Linked DNA regions of Homo sapiens: regions 2, 3 and 4 are each linked to region 1. Evidence: fine-mapped QTL for protein levels in blood plasma. A gene starts in region 1. Each other region holds a variant in brackets. All regions are shown on one strand. Distances are from middle to middle. Region 1 holds the start of VMO1 (vitelline membrane outer layer 1 homolog). Region 2 holds the start of CXCL16 (C-X-C motif chemokine ligand 16). Region 3 has its middle 5.6 kb from the start of TM4SF5. Region 4 has its middle 13 kb from the start of TM4SF5.

Region 1 (5,145 bases):
CCTCACCAGCGCCTAGCCAGTCCGTGTCCCTCCGCCTCCAGGAGGGGACAGAAGCCCGTGGTGCCCTGAGGCGCAAAGGATTAATAATTAACCTACTAAGGCCCCTTCCCCTGTGCCCTTCGCCCCAAAGGGCAGCTACCCTGGGTGCGAGGAACTGGGTGAAGGGAATTTGGGGGATTCGACAGCAGTGACAGATCAGTGCATTTCCCTTCCCTGTAGGGCCAGCTGTAGCAAGAGGCACTCTGAGTATTGGGAAGAGAGGCAGGGCCCAGAACAGCTCCCCTACTGAGCAGTGGTGTGGGCCCTAAATTCACTCTGGGCTTGAGTTCCCTCCACTGTAAATTGAGGATAATAATAGGTACTTTGCAAGCCTCATGTGAGGATTAAATGATAACGTATGTGAAAACACTAAATGGAAAAGCTGACCACAATTGCCCTATAAATCTTATTAAGTTCAAGCATTGTCCGGCTCTGGGATCCAGGGAACACCCACTTCTCTCTCGCTCTCTTTTTTTTTTTGTTTGTTTTTTGTTTTTTTGTTTTTTGAGACAAAGTCTCGCTCTGTCGCCCAGGCTGGAAAGTGCCGGCTAATTTTTACATTTTTAGTAGAGACAGGGTTTCACCATACTGGACAGGCTGGTCTCGAACTCCTGACCTTGTGATCCGCCCAACTTGGCCTCCCAAAGTGCTGGGATTACAGGCGTAAACCACCGCGCCCAGCCGGGAACACCCACTTCTAAATTCTCTATCTTATTCCCAGGGGACTTTGTCTTGACCTGGATACATGACCTCTTGCAATCATATACGTACGTCAGGCTTTATCCTTTTGCATTTTTGTGGTTTAATTTTCAAAACTCCAGATTGGCTCTTCAATCATTCATTGCACCAACTTTTATTAAGTACTTCCGCACGTACTAGGCTTCAAGAATACAAAAGTGCCTTCACAGAGCTCAAGGTCCACTGGGGGAGAATTTATCCTCTGTCTCCCCCACTGGAATGTGACCTCTGATGACAGGGGCCTTGTTATTCTTGCTTACAGCAAGTGGAATATTGCTTAAGCCAAAACATATTATTGCTAAATAGGTATTGAATAAACAAAGGAGTGTGTATGAGGGGCAGGTAAATCTGGGGTTGTGGCCCCTAACAAATTTAGCCAGGCATTTTTAGGCCAGGCACGGTGGCTCACGCCTGTAATCCCAGCACTTTGGGAGGCCGAGGTGGGCGGATCACCTGAGGTCAGCCTGGCTAACATGGCAACACCCCGTCTCTACTAAAAATATACAAATTAGCCGGGCGTGGTGGCGAACGCCTATAATCCCAGCTACTCGGGAGGTTAAGGGAAGAGAATCGCTTGAACCCGGGAGGCAGAGGTTGCAGTGAGCCGAGATGGCGTCACTGCACTCCAACCTGGGCAACAGAGTGAGACTTCGTCTCAAAACAAACAAACAAACAAACAAACAAAAAACATACTTAGCCAGATTTTCTCGCTTTTTGTTTTGCAAATTAGGAGTCCATCTGGTGGTCACAGGGGGAAAGGCATTCCAGGAAAGGATATAAGGATACAGAAAGCAATGGAAGAAACAGCATGATCTTTTCTTAGGGGTTCTTAGTCTCCTGTCCCCAAACTTCTTAGAGTTATTCCTGTTGGACCGGGCGCGGTGGCTCATGCCTGTAATCCCAGCACTTTGGGAGGCCGAGGCAGGCGGATCACAAGGTCAAGAGATAGAGACCATCCTGGCCAACACGGTGAAACCCGGTCTCTACTAAAAATACAAAAATTAGCGGGGCGGCGTCTTGGCGCGCGCCTGTAGTCCCAGCTACTCGGGAGGCTGAGGCAGGAGAATCGCTTGAACCCAGGAGGTGGAGGTAGCAGTGAGCCGAGATCGCGCCACTGCGATGCCGCCACTGGGCGACAGAGTGAGACTTCGACTCAAAAAATAAAAATAAAAAAGAATTATTTCTGTTTGTATATGTCTTCTTCTAAGGTAGGGAGGAGTGTCCCGGATTCTCAAGGTGTTAGGGCCCTGAGCTCTCAGAAGACCTCTCAGAGGAGGAAGAGACTTCTGAGCTGACAGGAGTTTTCTCAGCTTCTCCAGTTCGAGGATTCTTGTCCTATCCTCACTCTGATGTCCCCTCACATCCTGGAGGTCTCTGGGTTGCTCTTGCCCCATCCCGTCACTGGTGGGACTCCCGGGAGGTCACTTCCATCCCTAGCCCTGGTCTCTGCTCTGTCTCCACTCTCACTGCTGGAATGTTTCCCAGCTTGCTTGGCTGTAAACCTAAGGCAAGTTGCTTGCCATTTTTGAGCCAGTTCCCTCATCTACAAAATAGGAAGGATAATTCTCACCCCCCAAAAATTGTTGTGAGGGTTAAACAAAATACTGCAAAGCGCTAACCATAATTCGTAGCCTATAGTAAATATTCAGTAGGTGATGGTTATTTTAATTCGCCCTCTCTCACTGCCCCTCCTACCCTAGCTCTGGGAGCCTCTGCCTCCGGGAGCAGGAAATAGGGTTCCGGGAGTGGATTAGTTTTGGGTTTCACTTAATCTGGGAGGCCCTTCCGCAATCGGAGCCCTCACAGAGGCCAAACTGATATAAATCTGCTTAGGAGGCCTGATTCACAGACGCTACAGGATGGAGCGGGGCGCAGGAGCCAAGCTGCTGCCGCTGCTGCTGCTTCTGCGGGCGACTGGTTTCACATGTGCACAGACAGATGGCCGGAACGGCTACACGGCGGTCATCGAAGTGACCAGCGGGGGTCCCTGGGGCGACTGGGCCTGGCCTGAGATGTGTCCCGATGGATTCTTCGCCAGCGGGTTCTCGCTCAAGGTTGGGGCTCAGGCGTAGGTCCTGGAGAGGGCGGAGATGCGTGGGACCATAGAGCCAAGGATGATAATTCCGTGACTCGCCCTTGCCCCTCTCCTCGATACCCAGGTGGAGCCTCCCCAAGGCATTCCTGGCGACGACACTGCACTGAATGGGATCAGGCTGCACTGCGCGCGCGGGAACGTCCTAGGCAATACGCACGTGGTAGAGTCCCAGTCTGGAAGGTGGGGCGCAGGGGTCGAGGATCCCTTGGGGTGATGGTATGTCCCTTACCCTCTATTACATACTCCGTCGCAACAGGCAGGCTGGCTCCGCCAGAGCTACGGGGCAGTATAGACCGGGGAGGCGAAGGGTGGATGGAAGACCCCTCCTCCGCTCCTCGGCGGAGGTCGGGGAGCACCCAGCCCACCAGGTCATATACACAGCACTTGGCTTGGAAAGTCTCAAGGGCTTGGTGAATGGGGGGCCCGCAGAGGCAACGCATCTCCCTTTGCCTTGCAGCTGGGGCGAATGGAGTGAGCCGCTGTGGTGTCGCGGCGGCGCCTACCTAGTGGCTTTCTCGCTTCGCGTGGAGGCACCCACGACCCTCGGTGACAACACAGCAGCGAACAACGTGCGCTTCCGCTGTTCAGACGGCGAGGAACTGCAGGGGCCTGGGCTGAGCTGGGGAGACTTTGGAGACTGGAGTGACCATTGCCCCAAGGGCGCGTGCGGCCTGCAGACCAAGATCCAGGGACCTAGAGGCCTCGGCGATGACACTGCGCTGAACGACGCGCGCTTATTCTGCTGCCGCAGTTGAACGGCGCCGCCGCCGCCGCTCTCTCCCGGGCCAGGAGGCTAGTCCCACCTCTTGCTATTAAAGCTTCTCTGAGTTGACTTTGGTCTCGCCTGTTTATTTCATTTATTTATTTATTAATTTATTTATTTGAGACGGAGTATCGCTCTGTCCCCCAGGCTGGAGTGCAGTGGCTCACTCGGCTCACTGCAAGCTCTGCCTCCCGGGTTCACGCCGTTCTCCTGCCTCAGCCTCCCGAGTAGCTGGGACTACAGGCGCCCGCCACTACGCCCGGCTAATTTTTTTTTTTTTTTTTTGTATTTTTAGTAGAGACGGGGTTTCACCGTGTTAGCCAGGATGGTCTCGATCTCCTGACCTCATGATCCGCCCACCTTGGCCTCCCAAAGTGCTGGGATTACAGGCGTGAGACACCATGCCCGGCTGGTCTCGCCTGTTTAAGGGATGGGGAACTGAGTCTCCTTTTCCCCTCCTAACTTAGCATTAGGTGAGGCATACATTTGGATTTGGTCTCAGGGGTCTATGGTAGATTGCTGAAAAGTTATGGACTCGAGAAAAACGCACTTAAACAGATAATTTTCAGACAAGTGATGGAAGTCTGGCTTTTTTTTTTTTTTTTTTTTTTGGAGTCTCACTCTGTCACTCAGGCTGGAGTGCAGTGGTATGATCTTGGCTCACTGCAACTTCCACCTCCTGGGTTCAAACGATTCTTCTGCCTCAGCCTCCTGAGTAGTTGGGACTACTGGTACCCACCACCATGCCCAGCTAATTTTTGTATTTTTAGTAGAGATGGAGTTTCCCCATGTTGGCCAAGCTGGTCTCAAACTCCTGACCTCAAGTGATCCACTGGCTTCAGCCTTCCAAAGTTTTGGGATTACCGGCTTGCACCATCGTGCGGGCCCAGGAAGTCTGGCTTTCTGAGAGAGTCTGCAGACACCCTGCCCCCATTAGGTGCCTAGGTTGTCTCCTTTCTGAACCAGTGACCTAAGATTAAGAAAATTCTACCAAATTATGGCCAGATGTGGTGGCTCACAGCTGTAATCTCAGCACTCTGGGAGGCTGAGGTGGGTGGATTGTTTAAGCTCAGCAGTTGGAGACCAGCCTGGGCAACATGGTGAAATCCCCTCTCTACAAAAAGTACAAAAATTAGCAGGGGTATGGTGGTGTGCGCCTGTAGTCCCAGCTACTCAGGAGGCAGAGGCAGGAGGATTGCTTTAGCCCAGGAGGTGGAGGCTGCAATGAGCCGAGATCGTGCCACTGCACTCCAGCCTGAGTGACAAAGTGAGACCCTGTCAAAAAAAGCAAAAAAAAAAAATTCTATCAAATTAGGAGGTGACAAGGCCACAATGGCTTTACAGTTCCATTTTCTAGAGCTTAAGAGGTTACAGTGTCTTTTCCATAGTTTTCATTATTTTCTCCTACAGAACTGATCCCTGTTTAGGATCTTTGTCCTTGCTGTTCTCTCTGCCTATAATCCCCCAAATATCCAGATGGTTAGCAAGCCTTCCTGATCTTAGCTCAAAT
Region 2 (5,135 bases), 46 kb after region 1:
AAACGATTCTCCCACCTCAGTCTCCCGAGAATTGTGACCACAAGCGAGTGCACCATGCCTGACTAATTTTTTCTATTTTTTGTAGAGACAGAGTCTATGTTGCCCAGGCTGATCTCAAATTCCTGGGCTCAAGTTGGCCTCCCAAAGTGCTGGGATTACGGGTGTGAACCATTGCCCGGCCTAGAACCCCAGCCTTGAACTCTCCCTAGCCTCCCGCGAGGACCCTGGTTCTAAGTCTGGTTCCAGTCAGGCCGGGAACTACCATTTCTGAGTGCCTCCAGCGTACCAGGCACCAAGCCAAGATAATCCTTGTAACAATTCCATGGGCCTTCTCCGTATCCCTCATGAGGACACGGAAGCTTCAAGAAGTAAAGTGGTTTGTTTAAGGTCACACTGCAGTTAGTGGTGGAGCTGGGAAGCAAGTAAGTGTTTGAATCCCTGTCCCCCAATCCCTGCACGCTCTCAGGGACCCAGACACTCAGGCCTCGGCTTCAGAGACCCTGTCTCCAGCCCCAAACACCCAGCCCCTGCCCTTGTTCCAGGGATCTAGGCTCTAGCCCCAGACACTCAGCCTTCAACTGCAGGACCCTGTTCCCAGACATCTAATTCCCAGTCTCAAAGACCTGGTCCCAGTTTCCCCCAACCATTCTGACCTCCTTATGGTACCTGCGGTGTAGGTAAAAGGCAGGGTTGCCAGTTCTCCTGCCCGCTCCATGAAGGCTGCAAGCCTTGGGCACCAAAATCGGTGACTCACATCATCTGGGCACCGCTGCCAGTCAGCCCGGAGACAAGCCTCTCCACAATACAAGACAGCACTACACTGGGGGCTGGGGACACAGCGGGTGGTGGGCACCTAGTGTTAACCTCTGTAGGTCCTGTCTGCTGTTCAACTGCCCAGCAGCTGCCCATATGTCACTCGGTCTGTTTGTCTTACACCCTCTAACCGCCTGTAACAGTCTGTATTGTTTCCTCTGCATCTTCTCATGTCCCTGCCTCTCCTTCTGTCTGCTAGGC[GC/C]CCCCCACCACCCTGCCTTCCTTCTATTTGCCTATTGGGGTCTTCCTCTCCCCCAGCTTTGGGGCTGCTCACCAAGGTGTCAGCTTCGCTTCAAAGCTGTGCCTGTGACACACATGGCAGGTTCGAGCACGAAGGGAAGCAAAGGTGAAGCCTGGCCGGGGACCCCATGTCCGCATTGGGGTTTTGGCTAACTTCACACCTAGCCTTGGGACCAAGCTCTCCAGCTCTCTAAATGCAGTTGGGGGGGAGATGGCATCAGGCTGGAGGAGGTGCTTGGGAATCCAGGGCCCGAGTCCTCCCCAGCCTCAGATACCAGATTTCTATACCGATGCAGCCGGGCATCTCCCACAGTAAGCTGTCGGGGCTTTCGGGGATCCCCAGAGCCCATGGGACAGGCCATGCTGTGACAGAGGAGAGCATAGGCCCAAGGAGCCAGGTCCTTGGTCCCTGAGCCCCAGCTTGCGGTTCCCTGGGCTCCATCCACTAGCAGATCAATGCCCAAGATGGTGCCATGCTCATCCGTCACAAGTAAGAGACAGGAAACGTGCAGGGGGGCAGCCTCTGGGGAAAGAGGGAAAAGTTGAGGTGGTAGGGGGCAGCGAGAGACAAATGTGGTCAGGGTCAGGAGTACCAAACTCAAATACCTACGGGGCTAGGCAAGTAACCTCACTGAGTAAAGGGCTCTGGGTAGAGAGGGCACGCTCCTTCTAAAGGGGACAGCTGCTACAGAGGACCAGAATGCGCTGCCATGCAGAAATGTAGGCCCACTGTCAGAGCTTGAGATTTTTCTTGGGAATGTGTAAATCCAGACTTCTGGATACTTTTTTTCTTGCAATGTTTAAACATTAAATTAAAAAAAAAAACCCCACTGTGGGTCAATAAAAACACCTTTTCAGGCCAGATTGGCCTGAAGGCCAGCACTCAGAACTAGTGGCAGGGGAGGGCTTCCGAAGGGAGGATGGCTGGGCAAGGGGTAGGGCAGGGCCAGCCCTGGGTTCTTACCACTCCTCTGTCCCTTCCTCTTCTGGGGTCTTGTTTCGTTCTCCACCCTGTCCTCTCGGCAGCCATCCTTGCCACCTCCTGCCTCCCGGGCAGCCTCCTCTGACTCTCCTGGAGGGTTTGTTTCCTGGGGGGACTCCCTGCTGGTAGGGGCTAGCTCCCGGTCCTCCTCTGGTTCCACCTTCTCTGTGCTGCCTGCACCCCCGTCCTCTCTCTTCTCTTCTTCTTCATCTTCCTCCTCTTCCTCCTCCCCTTCCTCCCCATCCTCTAGGCTGACAAAGCTGATGTAGGGGCTCAGGTCTCGCAGGTGGAGTGGAGGGTTGTCTCCCAGGAGCCAGGCAGTCCCCAGGCCTGGTCCAGGACCTGGTTCTGCCCCTTGCCCCAGGCTGATGCCCACACTATGGTTGGGCAGGACATGGAGCACCCAAAGGGCAGGGTCCTGGGGTAGCCTTCTGATCTGGGCCTCCAGCTGCCGGCAGCGGCCCTCAAGGCTAGTCCCTACAGCTCCACGCTCTGCCACAAACTTTCGGAACCAGCCGAAGAGAAGGGCAGTGAAATCAAGGAACTCATCCCGGTATCCAGACACAAACTCCATGTCTTCAGCGGCACAGGGCCCCGGCCCAGACTGAGCAAAAGAAGGGATATATGGTGAGGGACAGGAGAGCAATGATGGAGTTTGGGGCTGGGTCACAAATTGAGGGAGAGGGTAGGTTTGAGAGTCACTTAGGGTTGGATCCGTGGATATGCTAGGAGCGGAGAAGAGGATTTTTCAGGGCTGAGGATGGGAGTTTAGGGAGGAAAATGGGGGCTGGACTTGAAAGTGGGTGACCAGGGTTGGAGAAGACTACTCAGGGATGAGATGGTATTTGGGGCTTAAAATTGGAGAGTTCACACCCTCAAAAGCAGAGTTTAAATTAAGGCTAGAGAGGAGAGAGGGCTAATCCTATCGGGAACGGTTTGGTGGGGAGGGAAGCATTTTGGATGCGTCTGTGGGGTATGGGAGTGGGAGCGAGGGGGTTCCCTGGGCTCGGATCTGCGTGGCGGGCAGCCCCGGTAGACCTAGCCCCTCCCGGCCGCCCCACTCCTCCGGTACCTGCAGCCGCCACCACTTTTCGAAGGTAAATACCTCGCGGTGGAGGGTGCGCGGGTGCGGTTGTGACGTCAGGGCTGCCCGAGCCCTCGCCGGCTCAGCGGGCGGCCACGCCCCCCGGGCTCGGTGCGTCCGCGGGTGGCTGCCCCGCAGGTGCGCGCGGCCGGGGCTGGCGGCGACTCTCTCCACCGGGCCGCCCGGGAGGCTCATGCAGCGCGGCTGGGTCCCGCGGCGCCCGGATCGGGGAAGTGAAAGTGCCTCGGAGGAGGAGGGCCGGTCCGGCAGTGCAGCCGCCTCACAGGTCGGCGGACGGGCCAGGCGGGCGGCCTCCTGAACCGAACCGAATCGGCTCCTCGGGCCGTCGTCCTCCCGCCCCTCCTCGCCCGCCGCCGGAGTTTTCTTTCGGTTTCTTCCAAGATTCCTGGCCTTCCCTCGACGGAGCCGGGCCCAGTGCGGGGGCGCAGGGCGCGGGAGCTCCACCTCCTCGGCTTTCCCTGCGTCCAGAGGCTGGCATGGCGCGGGCCGAGTACTGAGCGCACGGTCGGGGCACAGCAGGGCCGGGGGGTGCAGCTGGCTCGCGCCTCCTCTCCGGCCGCCGTCTCCTCCGGTCCCCGGCGAAAGCCATTGAGACACCAGCTGGACGTCACGCGCCGGAGCATGTCTGGGAGTCAGAGCGAGGTGGCTCCATCCCCGCAGAGTCCGCGGAGCCCCGAGATGGGACGGGACTTGCGGCCCGGGTCCCGCGTGCTCCTGCTCCTGCTTCTGCTCCTGCTGGTGTACCTGACTCAGCCAGGTTAGCCGGGGGCGGGGCAGGGGACCCAGATTCCCCTGTCACGGGAAGGGGGTGAGTTGGGGAGGGGACACGAGGCCCACGGAGTTGAGTGGATGAAGGCAGCGGGGACAAGAGGAAAGCCAGCCAGCCGCCTGGGGTTGGGGACAGAGGCCCGGGGACGCCTGGCTCCGGGCGGGATTATGGATGTTGTCGGGGGCGTGATGATGTGTGGGTTGAGCCTGGCGCTCTGACCCTGGGTCCACCGAGAGGCTGTCATGGGGCTGTGGATTGGATGCCAGGGAACAGCGGAGTGGGGACCCTGGGCCTGGGAATGGGTGCCGACCACCTCCGTCCCGCGCAGGCAATGGCAACGAGGGCAGCGTCACTGGAAGTTGTTATTGTGGTAAAAGAATTTCTTCCGACTCCCCGCCATCGGTTCAGTTCATGAATCGTCTCCGGAAACACCTGAGAGCTTACCATCGGTGTCTATACTACACGAGGTAATTTTACCTGCCTCTGCGAGGGCAGCGCCTGGGCGGCCCCTCCTTGCAGGTGCCTCCAGGACCCTCTCTGGTCCAGCCTGAACTCCTTCCCGGCTCACCGAGCCCCATCTCCGGGTTCCGTTTGCTCTCATTCCCCGAAACTTCATGACTCCGTCTCACCTACTGGGGAGTTTCCCAGTCCCAGGAGAAAGGGCTCTTTCTTGGTGGCAACTTCACGCCTCTGGAATGAGGAAGGAGCCGGGGAAGGAAAGAAGGCGCCGCAGCTAAGCCCAGGTCTCTCCTCCGCAGGTTCCAGCTCCTTTCCTGGAGCGTGTGTGGGGGCAACAAGGACCCATGGGTTCAGGAATTGATGAGCTGTCTTGATCTCAAAGGTGAGACTTTTCCACTGCTCTTCAGGCTCTGCCTCCAGGGCTTAGCAGCTTCCACCTGACAGTTTTCTTTACCTGAGCCTTTTCCCCTGGGGCCGCACATTCCTAGAACCTTCTTCTGATCCTGTCCAAAGTACTTAGACTCGAGTCCCTGTTTGCCAAACGGGGTGATCATTCACCATCACCTTCATGAGTTTTGCCAATTCATTCTACCACGTGTGCTATTGTCTACTTATTAATATTTTTCTTGAAATCAAAGTACTATTTTATTTTATTTTTTTGAGATGGAGTCTCACTCTGTCACCCAGGCTGGAGTGCAGTGGCACGATCTTGGCTCACTGCAACCTCTGCCTCCCAGGTTCAAGAGATTCTCCTGCCTCAGCCTCCT
Region 3 (5,145 bases), 20 kb after region 1:
TGTATCAGTGAAATAAATGCTTATATTTATTTGACACTAAGACTTCGTCGAGGGGGATGGTTTGTTGCCCAGTAACAAGTTCCTAACACAGACCCCCTTATCTAGGCCAGGGCTGGTTGATTGAGGAACAAGTAGCTGACCCAAAGGCAGACATGTAGCCAGCGACCTGTGAGGTCTCTCGAGGTGAGAACTCCATCCAACAGAGGTACACTGACTGGATAATGACCAATCCACCGACTGGATCTTCATGATTGGGAAATGTGTCTGTGAGACAAGCTGAGACAGTCATCAGAGAGTGGGGTGGCTTCAAACTGAGAGTTGTATGCAAGAAAGAAGCAATCAAAAGCCAGAGGCAACTGACACCAGAAATAAGCAGAAGTCACAGCAAGAGAAGTGTATGGAGAATAGTTACTCTGAAACAGCGCCAGAGGGAGAAGCACAGGCACTGGAAAACTCTGGTTCCTCAGGAGGTGGCCGATGAGAGGTTGTCACCAGCACTAATGTTGAACTACCAGAGCAACTGTCATATCCCGAATAGTGGCCCTTCCAACCGTGGACCTGAAGAGGGGATTCAGCCATTGATCTGATGGACAGAGAGCAGGGCCAAGAGCTGGCCACCTATTTGTCTACAAGTTGCTCAAGCTGATTCTGAGAGATGGTGCCTCTTTTTTATTTTTTTTTAAACAGAGTTTCACTCTTATTGCCCAGGCTGCAGTGCAGTGGCGTGATCTCGGCTCACCGCCACCTCCGCCTCCCGGGTTCAGGAGACTCAAGTAGTTGGGATTACAGGTGCCCGCCACCACGCTTGGCTCATTTTTGTATTTTTTGTGGAGATGAAGACAGGGTTTCTCCATGTTGGCCAGGCTGCTCTCGAACTCCTGATCTCAGGTGATCCACCCACCTCGGTCTCCCAAAATGCTGGGATTACAGGTGTGAGCCACTGCGGCCAGCCAAATGGTGTCTGTTTTGAGGATGAATAAAGAGAAAAAAAATAGTTGTGTGGGTGGGGTGGTCCACAGGCATTCATTACATTATTTTTATACAATTCTGGATGAATGAAATAATGTTAATAATGTTAACAAAACATTATAGGGATTCTGAAAAATTTTCTCAAAACCAGGGAAGGGCAAATCAACCTGAAGACTGAAAGAAACAGAATCCTCTGGAGGAACATTTACTATAGGATTTGGAAGAGATTTCCAGGAAGATTTTTGATGACATCACTAGAATTCTCCTGGAACTAGGAACAGAATAACTTAAGAAAGAAAAGGCTGGCCGGGCGCGGTGGCTCACGCCTGTAATCCCAGCACTTTGGGAGGCCAAGCTCGGTGAATCACCTGAGGTCAGGAGTTTGAGACCAGCCTGGCCAACATGGCGAAACCCCATCTTCACAAAAAATACAAAAATTAGACAAGTGTGATGGCAGGCACCTGTAATCCCAGCTACTCAGGAGGCTGAGGCAGGAGAATCGCTTGAACCCGGGAGGTGGGGGTTGCAGTGAGCCGAGATCGCACCATTGCACCCCAGTATGGGCAACAGAGCAAGACTCCATCTCAAAAAAAAAAAAAAAAAAAAGGTCCAGGCTCAGTGGGTCACGCTTGTAATCCCAGCACTTTGGGAGGCCGAGGCGGGCAGATCACCTGAGGTCAGGAATTCGAGACCAGCCTGACCAACATGGGGAAACCCCGTCTCTACTAAAAATACAAAAATTAGCTGGGCATGGTGGCGGGTGCCTGTAATCCCCGCTACTCAGGAGGTTTAGGCAGGAGAATCGCTTGAACCCGGGAGGTGGAGATTGCAGTGAGCCAAGATCACGCCATTGCGCTTCAGCCTGGGTGACAGAGTGAGACTCTGGCTCAAAAAAAAAAAAAAAAAAATTCAGGAAACTGGCTTCTCCTAAGAACAAGAATAGAACTGGTGGAAGTGACACCACAGTTAAAACATCTGCACTAGGAGAAGAC[G/A]TCACTGAGCGCAGATAGATCCACTCAGGTCAGTGGGTTGAAAGTTATACTGCACGGCAGGTAAAATATTAAAAGTCAGCTGACCATAGATTCATCCTGACAAAATATCTGAATTAAAGGATACATCTAGGCAGAATTTAAAAAGGCTACTTAGAAAGAAACAATAGTTGGTGTGGCCAGAGTCTTCTCTGAAATACTGAATGTCAGAGGACAAAGGAGTAAGGCAGCTGTGTCCACCAAAAAAGGTAGAACTATCATATACATGTCTAAGTTGCATTTTGTATGTTAAGGGCAACACAATTGCATTTCTGAGAATGTTTGGATTTCAAAATAACACTTTGGCTCCTTTTTTTTAGAGAAATTGTGTTGACTCACCAAGAGATGAAGTAAAATAAAAACCCCAAAATGGGGAAGTCTTGACGTAAGTCTAAATAAATTTCATATATCTGGTTACAAAACTGGATGCACATTTTGGAAAAAAATATTTTTCTTCTCTTTTGTTTTGAGTCAGAGTCTTGCTCTGTCATGCAGGCTGGAGTGCAGTGGCGTCATCTTGACTCTGCAACCTCAGCCTTCTGAGTTCAAGCGATTCTCCTGCCTTAGCCCCCCAAGTAGCTGGGATTACAAGCATGGGCCACCAGGCCTGGCTAATTTTTATATTTTTAGTAGAGACTAAGTTTCACCATGTTGGAGGGTGGTCTTGAACTCCTGACCTCAAGTGATCCACCTGTCTTGGCCTCCCAAAGTGCTGGGATTACAGGTATGAGCCACCACAACCCGGCCAGAGCCATTGTGCCCAGTCTCATTTTTTTTTAAAGACAGTGTCTCACTCTGTTGTCCAGACTGGTGTGCAGTGGCATGATCTTGGCTCACTGCAAACTCTATCTCCTGGGCTCAAGTGATCGTCCTGCCTCAGCCTGCCAAGTAACTGGGACTACAGATGTTCACCACCCACCATGCTTGTCTAATCTTTTTGTGTGTATATATGTAAATATATATATATATATTTTTTTTGAGACAGAGTTTCACTCTTGTTGCCCAGGCTGGAGTGCAATGGCGCAATCTCAGCTTACTGCAACTTCTGCCTCCCAGGTTCAAGCGATTCTCCTGCCTCAGCCTCCCTAGTAGCTAGGATTACAGGCATGTGCCACCACGCCCGGCTAATTTTGTATTTTTAGTAGAGACAGGGTTTCTCCATGTTGGTCAGGCTGGTCTCAAACTCCCGACCTCAGGTGATCCGCCCACTTCGGCCTCCGAAAGTGCTGGGATTACAAGTGTGAGCCACCGAGCCCAGCCATCATTTTGTATTTTTTGTAGAAATGGGGTTTCATTTTGTTGCCCAAGTGGTCTTGAACTCCTGGGCTCAAGAAATCTGCACACATAGGCTTCCCAAAGTGTTGGGATTACAGGCGTGAGCCACTGCACCTAGCCCCGTAAAAATTTCTTTTGAAGTGGCCGGGCGTGGTGGCTCACGCCTGTAATCCCAGCACTTTGGGAGGCCGAGGTAGGCGGCTCACCTGAGGTCGGGAGTTTGAGACCAGCCGGACCCACATGGAGAAACCCCATCTCTACTAAAAATACAAAATTAGCTGGACTTGGTAGCGCATGCCTGTAATCCCAGCTACTTGGGAAGGCTGAGGCAGGAGAATCGCTTGAACCTGGGAGGTGGAGATTGCAGTGAGCCAAGATCGCGCCATTGCACTCCAGCCTGGGCAAGAGCAAAACTCTGTCTCAAAAAAAAAAAAAAAAAAAAAAATTCTTTTAAAGGGCAGCTGTATAATGTAAATTCTAAAAATGATATTAATACTATTAAATATGTCATTATTGCTTGCCATACTCTGGGTCCATTGTAAGGAACTATACCAGGTAACAGAAAACCCAACTCTATTGCAACAAAAAGGGAATTTATTGGTTCAAGCAATCAAAACATCCAGTAGGACTGAAGTAGGACTAACTGCAGGTGCAGTTTGGTCCAGAAGTTCAGGATGTCATCAGTGTTCTTGTTTCTCTGCCATTCTCTCTGCTGTTCCTTTTTTTGGCTTTGACTTCCTCCTTAAGTGGGATCTTCCTCCTGACAGTAGTATTAGCTGCAGCAGTTCAGACCTTATGTCTTTACACCCTACCACCAGGAGGAAGAGAATCTCCTCGCATAGCTTTCCCTGAGTAGAGAGGAAGTTTCTTTCCCATTTACCCCAGAAAATTTCTCCTTGGTGCAGACTGGGTTCTATGTCTGTCCCTTACACGGATCACTGTGGCCAGAGGGTAGAACATGCTGTATGAGTCTGTTCTCACGCTGCTAATAAAGACATACCCGAGACTGGTACTTTATAGAGGAAAGAGGTTTAATTGACTCACAGTTTAGCATGGCTGGGGAGGCCTTAGGAAACTTACAATCATGGCGGAAGGGGAAGCAAACATGTCCTTCTTCACATGGAGGCATTCCAGCACAGGGGGTGTTGTCAATTCTGTCTAAGCCACCAGGCTGGGAAATTAAGGGCAGTATTAGGAAGGAGGAAAGACAGAATGAATGATGGGGAGGCATCCAGCGAATATCCTCTCCAGGGAATCTGTCTAAACTCTGTGGCTCCGTACTCACTGCCCATAGCTGAGTAGCACATGCTTGACCTAGTATGTGACAGAGATAGTGAGTTAGTCCCAGTCTTCTGCTTTTATTATAGTAGCAGACTTTGTAGTCTGCTGCTAAAGGCACATGGCTGCTAAGCTAGAGACTATATTTTCGGCCAAGCCCGGTGGCTCACGCCTGTAATCCCAGCACTTCGGGAGGCTGAGGCGGGTGGATCACCTGAGGTCAGGAGTTTGAGACCAGCCTGGCCAACATGGTGAAACCTCATCTCTACTAAAAATACAAAAATTAGCCAGGCGTGGTGTCTCACGTCTGTAATCCCAGCACTTTGGGAGGCCAAGGCAGGTGGATCACCTGAGGTTGGGAGTTTGAGGCCAGCCTGACCAATATGGAGAAACCCCATCTCTATAAAAATACAAAATTAGCCGGGCGTAGTGGCACATGCCTGTAATCCCAGCTACTCCGGAGGCTGAGGCAGGAGAATCGCTTGAACCTGGGAGGCGGAGGTTGCAATGAGCTGAGATCATGCCACTGCATGCACTCTAGCCTGGGCGACAGAGCGAGACCCCGTGTCAAAACAACAACAACAACAAAAAAACC
Region 4 (5,145 bases), 28 kb after region 1:
ATCTAACAAAATACGTATAAGATCTACATGAAGAAAACTACAAAACTCTGATGAAAGACATCGAAGAAGATATAAATAAATGGAGAGAGTCCATGTTCATATATAGGAACACTCAACATTGTCAAGATGTCAGTTCTTTCCAAATTGATCTGTATCTTCAACACAATCCCAATCAAAATGCCAGAAAACCATTTCATGGATATTTACAAACTGATTCTAAAGTTTGTCTGGAGGGGCGAAAGACCCAGAATAGCCAACACAATATTGAAAGAGAGCAAAGTTGGAAGATTGACACGACCCAGCATCAAGACTTACTACAAAGCTCCAGTAGGGCTGGGCATGGTGGCTCATGCCTGTAATCCTAGTGCTTTGGGAGGGTGAAGCGGGAGGATTGCTTGAGGGCAGGAGTTGCAAGTTACAGTGAGCTGTGATTGTGCCACTGCACTCCAACCTGGGTGACAGAGCAAGACCCTGTCTCTAACAAAAACAAACAAAAGGCCAGGTGTGGTGGCTCACACCTGTAATCCCAGCACTTTAGGAGGCTGAGGTGGGTAGATCCCTTGAGCCCAAGAGTTCAACACTAGCCTGGACAACATGGTGAAACCCTGTCTCTATTAAAAAAAATAAATAAATAATAATAATAATAATAAACCAAAACCGCCGGGCGTGGTGGCTCACGCCTGTAATCCCAGCACTTTGGGAGGCTGAGGGTGGTGGATCACCTGAGGTCAGGAGTTCGAGACCAGCCTCAACATGGAGAAACCCAGACTCTACTAAAAATACAAAATTAGCTGGGCATGGTGGTGCATGCCTGTAATCCCAGATACTTGGGAGGCTGGGGCAGGAGAATCACTTGAACCTGGGAGGCGGAGGTTGTGGTGAGCCAAGATCTTGCCATTGCACTCCAGCCTGGGCAACAAGAGCGAAAGAAACTCCATCTTAAGGGAGAAAAAAAAAAAAAAGTAAAAGGCTACAAGTATATGACTTTCTGGAAAAAAACAGAACTCTGAAGACAGTGAAAAGGTCAGTGGCAGCCAGGGGTTGGTAGGGAGGGGAAGGAGGAATAAACAGAGCACAGAGGATTTTAGGGCAGTGAAACTTCTTTGTATGATACTATATATATACTGGTGCGTCATTATATATTTGTCTAAACCCATGGAACGTGCAACACCAAGAGCGAATCCTAATGTACACTATGCGATGGACTTTGGCTGATAATGACGTGTCAATGTAGTTCACTGATTGGAACAAATCTATCACTCTGGTGCCGGATGTTGATAGTGGGGGAGGCTGTGCATGTGTGGGGGTAGGAGTATAAGAAAACACTATACTTTCGGCTAGGCACAGTGGCTCATGCCTGTAATCCCAGCACTTTGAGAGGCCGAGGCGGGCGGATCACTTCAGGTCAGGAGTTCAAGGCCAGCCTGGGCAACATGGTGAAACCCCATCTCTACTAAAACTACAAAAAAAAAAAAAAAAAAAAAAAAAGAAGAAGAAGAAAAGAAAACTCTGTACTTTCTGCTCAATTTTGCTGTGAACCTAAAACTGCTTTTAAAAAATAAAGGCTATTCAGCCGGGTGCGGTGGCTCATGCCTGTAATCCCAGCACTTTGGGAGGCCGGGGCGGGCAGATCACTTGAGGTCAGGAGTTTGAGACCAGGCTGCACAACATGGCGAAACCTCATCTCTACTACAAATACAAAAATTAGCCAGGCATGGTGACGTACACCTGTAATCCCAGTTACTCCGGAGGTTGAGGCAGGAGAATTGCTTGAACCCAGGAGGCGGAGGTTGCAGTGAGCCGAGATAACACCACTGCACTCCAGCCTCGGTGACAGCAAGCGTGTCTCTAAATAAATAAATAAATAAATAAATAAATAAATGCTATTAAGAAAAAAAATCTTCAAAAAGATAACATGCTTTAAAACAGAAATCAAAAGGAAATGATGTATTAAGCATAGAAATAAAGTAGTGGAGCGAAAATTTGTTAGTGAAGACATCAATTTTGTTGAC[A/G]CTATTTGGTAAAACAAGAATGTGTCACTAGCTTAGAAGAAAATCTCGGAGACAGTAGTGGAGCACTTTTTAAAGAAATTCCGCTTCTCCAATGCCCTCGACAGTAGAGGGGACAGCAACACAGGCACTGATAGAAAGTGATTCAGAAGAGTCAGACTTTAAAGATTTTTTTGGAATATTTTAACCATATTATTTTTGTTTTTGTGTACGCACCAGAATTAGATTTTTTAATGGTCTGAAAGAGACTTCAATTAGCATAAAATAAAAATTGAAGTGTTAAGAAAGCATTGTATCATGGTTTGGCCGGGTGCTGTGGCTCACACCTGCAATCCCAGCACTTTGGGAGGCCGAGGCAGATGGATCACTTGAGGTCAGGAGTTTGAGACCAGCCGGACCAACATGGTGAAATGTCATCTCTCCTAAAAATACAAAAATTAGCCGGGCATGGTGGTGCACGCCTATAGTCCCAGCCACTCAGGAGACTGAGGCAGGAGGATCGCTTGAACCTAGGAGACAGAGGCTGTAGTGAGCCAAGATGATGCCACTGCACTCCAGCCTGGGCGACAGAGCCAGACTCTGTCTCAAAATAAACAAACAAACAAACAAACAAAAGCATGATGTATAACACTTGAAAGTATTTAAGTCAGTGAAATGCAGGATCGAGTACCCTCTGTGTAATGTGCCTAGTTGTGGACCCAGTGGATACAGCACTAAACTTGACAGATGAGGTACCTCTTCGTAGTTTATATTATAGTTTGGGGAGACAGGCAGTAAACTAGAAATTAGAGGTTATGCTAAATTACATGAAGGAAATAGGGTGGTGTGGTAGAGAGTGACTGGGAGGCAGCTACTGGGAGGCAGCTACTCAAGATTTGCTGGTCAGGGAATCGGAACTACCCTTAGACCTGGACAGGAGGGGCTCTTACTTGGCTGTCTGCTTAGTTCAGTACTTCTCAAACCGTAACTTCATACAGATTTCCTGAAGATGGTGTTAAAAGCAGATTCCGGGCTAGGCACGGTGGCTCATGCCTATAATGCCAGCACTTTGGGAGGCCGAGGCGGGAGGATCACCTGAGGTGGGATTGTAGAGGAGAGCAGTGGAGGGAGGGAGACCAGGAATGAGAGTGATGCTTTTCTGAGGACCCATGAATTGCCACTGAAGGTGTTTGGCAATGTGACCTGGGGAGGAGTGGGGGTTGAATGCTCTCTGAGCAAGGCAAGGCCAGAGTTATCAGCTCCTGAGAACTAAGATCGACGTGAGGACCAGATGGAGTCATTAGAAGGGAAACCATCTCAGATGATGAAGATTGTTTGAAATCAGATTTTTCCATAGAAACCCTGCAAATATAGCCCTTTGACATTTCTCTCTTCTTCCTTCTCCTAGCTCAGACTCCTGGAGATCAGGAGACCAGAACTTGTTCACCCTCCTCTACAGTGAGCAGACACTGACATGCCAGAAAAAAAAAAATGCATTTGGCTGTAATATTTGCAAGACCCAAGAAGGTACTGGGAATAAATTTATTTCCATAGAGGAAGTGGTTGGTGTTTTATGAGAAAGGGCACTCAGTCTCAAAAAAAAAAAAAAAAAAAAAGAAAAGAAAAAAAACCCCAAATAGTTAGAAATGCCGAGGGAGACTGTCAGAAATATAATAGTAGTGGGAAACTGTAATATAATTCTCTTCGACAAAGTAAGAAAAATATACAAACGTATAAAGAAACAGAGAATCTCAATGATAAAGTTGATTGATTAGTTAGCCTCTCATTCAACAAATATTTACTAAATGATATGTGCCAGGCCCTTTGCTGGATACCAGGAAGATATCAGCCATAAATACATCATCGGTGAACATCCTGAGCCTCCATCCTCCTGGAGCATGTATTCAAGTGCTATTTACTTGACTTTGTATCTCATAAATGGAGAACCTACCTTTTTCAATGCCAATAAAACATTTACAAATCTTGGTCAAATATTAGGCCGTGAAGGAGATATGAAATTCCCCAAACTTGAAATTGTACTGGACTGATACCCAGACCATAATGCAATAAACCAGAAATTTCTAAATGTTTAAGTAACAGCGACCTCTTAAAAAATCCCAAAATAGTTCTAATCAGTGAGAATATTCAAATTGCAAGTACAGATGATTATAAACAGACAATGAGATGAGGCTTGGTAGCTGATGCCTGTAATCCCAGAATTTTGGGAGGCCAAGGCAGAAGGGTTGCTTGAGGCCAGGAGTTCAAGACCAGCTTGGGCAACGCAGTGAGATCCCTGTCTCTCCAAAAAATTTTTACTTAAATTAGCCTGGCATGGTGACACACACCTGTAGTCCCAGCTACTCGGAAGGCTGAGGCAGGAGTATTGCTTGAGCCTAGGAGGTTGAGGCTGCAGTGAGCCAAGGTCACACTATGGGGCACAAATAATAACAGATTTTTAGGAGTGTGTTGCTGTTGTTGTTTTTTAAGAGACAGCATCTCGCTATGTTGCCCAGACTGGTCTTGAACTCCTGGCCTCAAGCAATCCTCCTGCCACAGCCTCCCAACATGCTGGGTTTACAGGCATGAGCCACTGCGCCCAGCCATGTTATTATTTGATAATGAACTAAGCTTGGTGTTAGGGGCTTCTCATACTTTGTTGTATATAATCCTCACAACTAACCTAGGGTAGCACCCTGCAGCTGAGTAGGCACTCAGTAAGTATTTGCTGAATGAGTGGATGTAGCTCCGAGTGAAAGTAAGTTGCCTGGCCAGGTGTGGTGGCTCGCACCTGTAATCCCAGCACTTTGGGAAGCACAGACGGGGAGGATCCCTTGAGCTAAGGAGTTCAAGACCAGCCTGGGCAACATAGGGAGACCTCTGTATTTTTTTTTTTTTAAGAGACAAAAAAAGGCCACCACACCCGACCTTTTTTTTTTTTTTTTTTTAAATAAAGTGACTTGCCTAAGACTACACAGCAGAAGTTAGTCAAGCTGGGGCTTACACTTAGGAGGCCTCTGCTTAGTTCTGTGCTTGTAACTGCGATGCTACTCGATCAACGTGGTTGTTGAAACATGCAGACAGGAAGAGCTAATGATTTAAGATGGCTTTAACCAAAACCTTTTTTTTTTTTTTTTTTTGAGACGGAGTTTCTCTCTTG

The links. PIP is the posterior inclusion probability: the model's chance that the variant is causal. The UK Biobank Pharma Proteomics Project read protein levels with antibody pairs (Olink). The fine-mapping took linkage between variants from a reference panel, not from the people measured, so its PIPs are less certain.
Region 2: its variant is fine-mapped to the plasma level of the VMO1 protein (UK Biobank, PIP 0.96).
Region 3: its variant is fine-mapped to the plasma level of the VMO1 protein (UK Biobank, PIP above 0.99).
Region 4: its variant is fine-mapped to the plasma level of the VMO1 protein (UK Biobank, PIP above 0.99).

What each region holds. Positions count from the first base shown.
Region 1 is chr17:4,783,844-4,788,988 of GRCh38, reverse strand. VMO1 (vitelline membrane outer layer 1 homolog) reads left to right here and starts at 2,625. Exons shown (of 3, transcript NM_182566.3): 1 at 2,625-2,831; 2 at 2,937-3,052; 3 at 3,330-3,704. The coding sequence starts at 2,637. The coding sequence ends at 3,627. GLTPD2 (glycolipid transfer protein domain containing 2) reads right to left here and starts at 25. Exons shown (of 4, transcript NM_001014985.3): 1 at 1-25.
Region 2 is chr17:4,738,023-4,743,157 of GRCh38, reverse strand. It overlaps CXCL16 (C-X-C motif chemokine ligand 16), which reads left to right and starts at 3,230. Exons shown (of 6, transcript NM_001386809.1): 1 at 3,230-3,897; 2 at 4,238-4,376; 3 at 4,668-4,750. The coding sequence starts at 3,819. ZMYND15 (zinc finger MYND-type containing 15) reads right to left here and starts at 3,325. Exons shown (of 14, transcript NM_001136046.3): 1 at 3,108-3,325; 2 at 2,018-2,639; 3 at 1,342-1,576; 4 at 1,088-1,243; 5 at 667-827. The coding sequence starts at 2,609. RefSeq lists a silencer at 3,139-3,358 and enhancers at 2,907-3,811, 3,812-4,717. The variant GC/C (reference allele first, on the strand shown) is at 1,015.
Region 3 is chr17:4,763,704-4,768,848 of GRCh38, reverse strand. No RefSeq gene overlaps it. Among named protein-coding and RNA genes, the nearest start is that of TM4SF5, 5.6 kb to the left of the region's middle. RefSeq lists a silencer at 4,623-4,785. The variant G/A (reference allele first, on the strand shown) is at 1,962.
Region 4 is chr17:4,756,056-4,761,200 of GRCh38, reverse strand. No RefSeq gene overlaps it. Among named protein-coding and RNA genes, the nearest start is that of TM4SF5, 13 kb to the left of the region's middle. The variant A/G (reference allele first, on the strand shown) is at 2,013.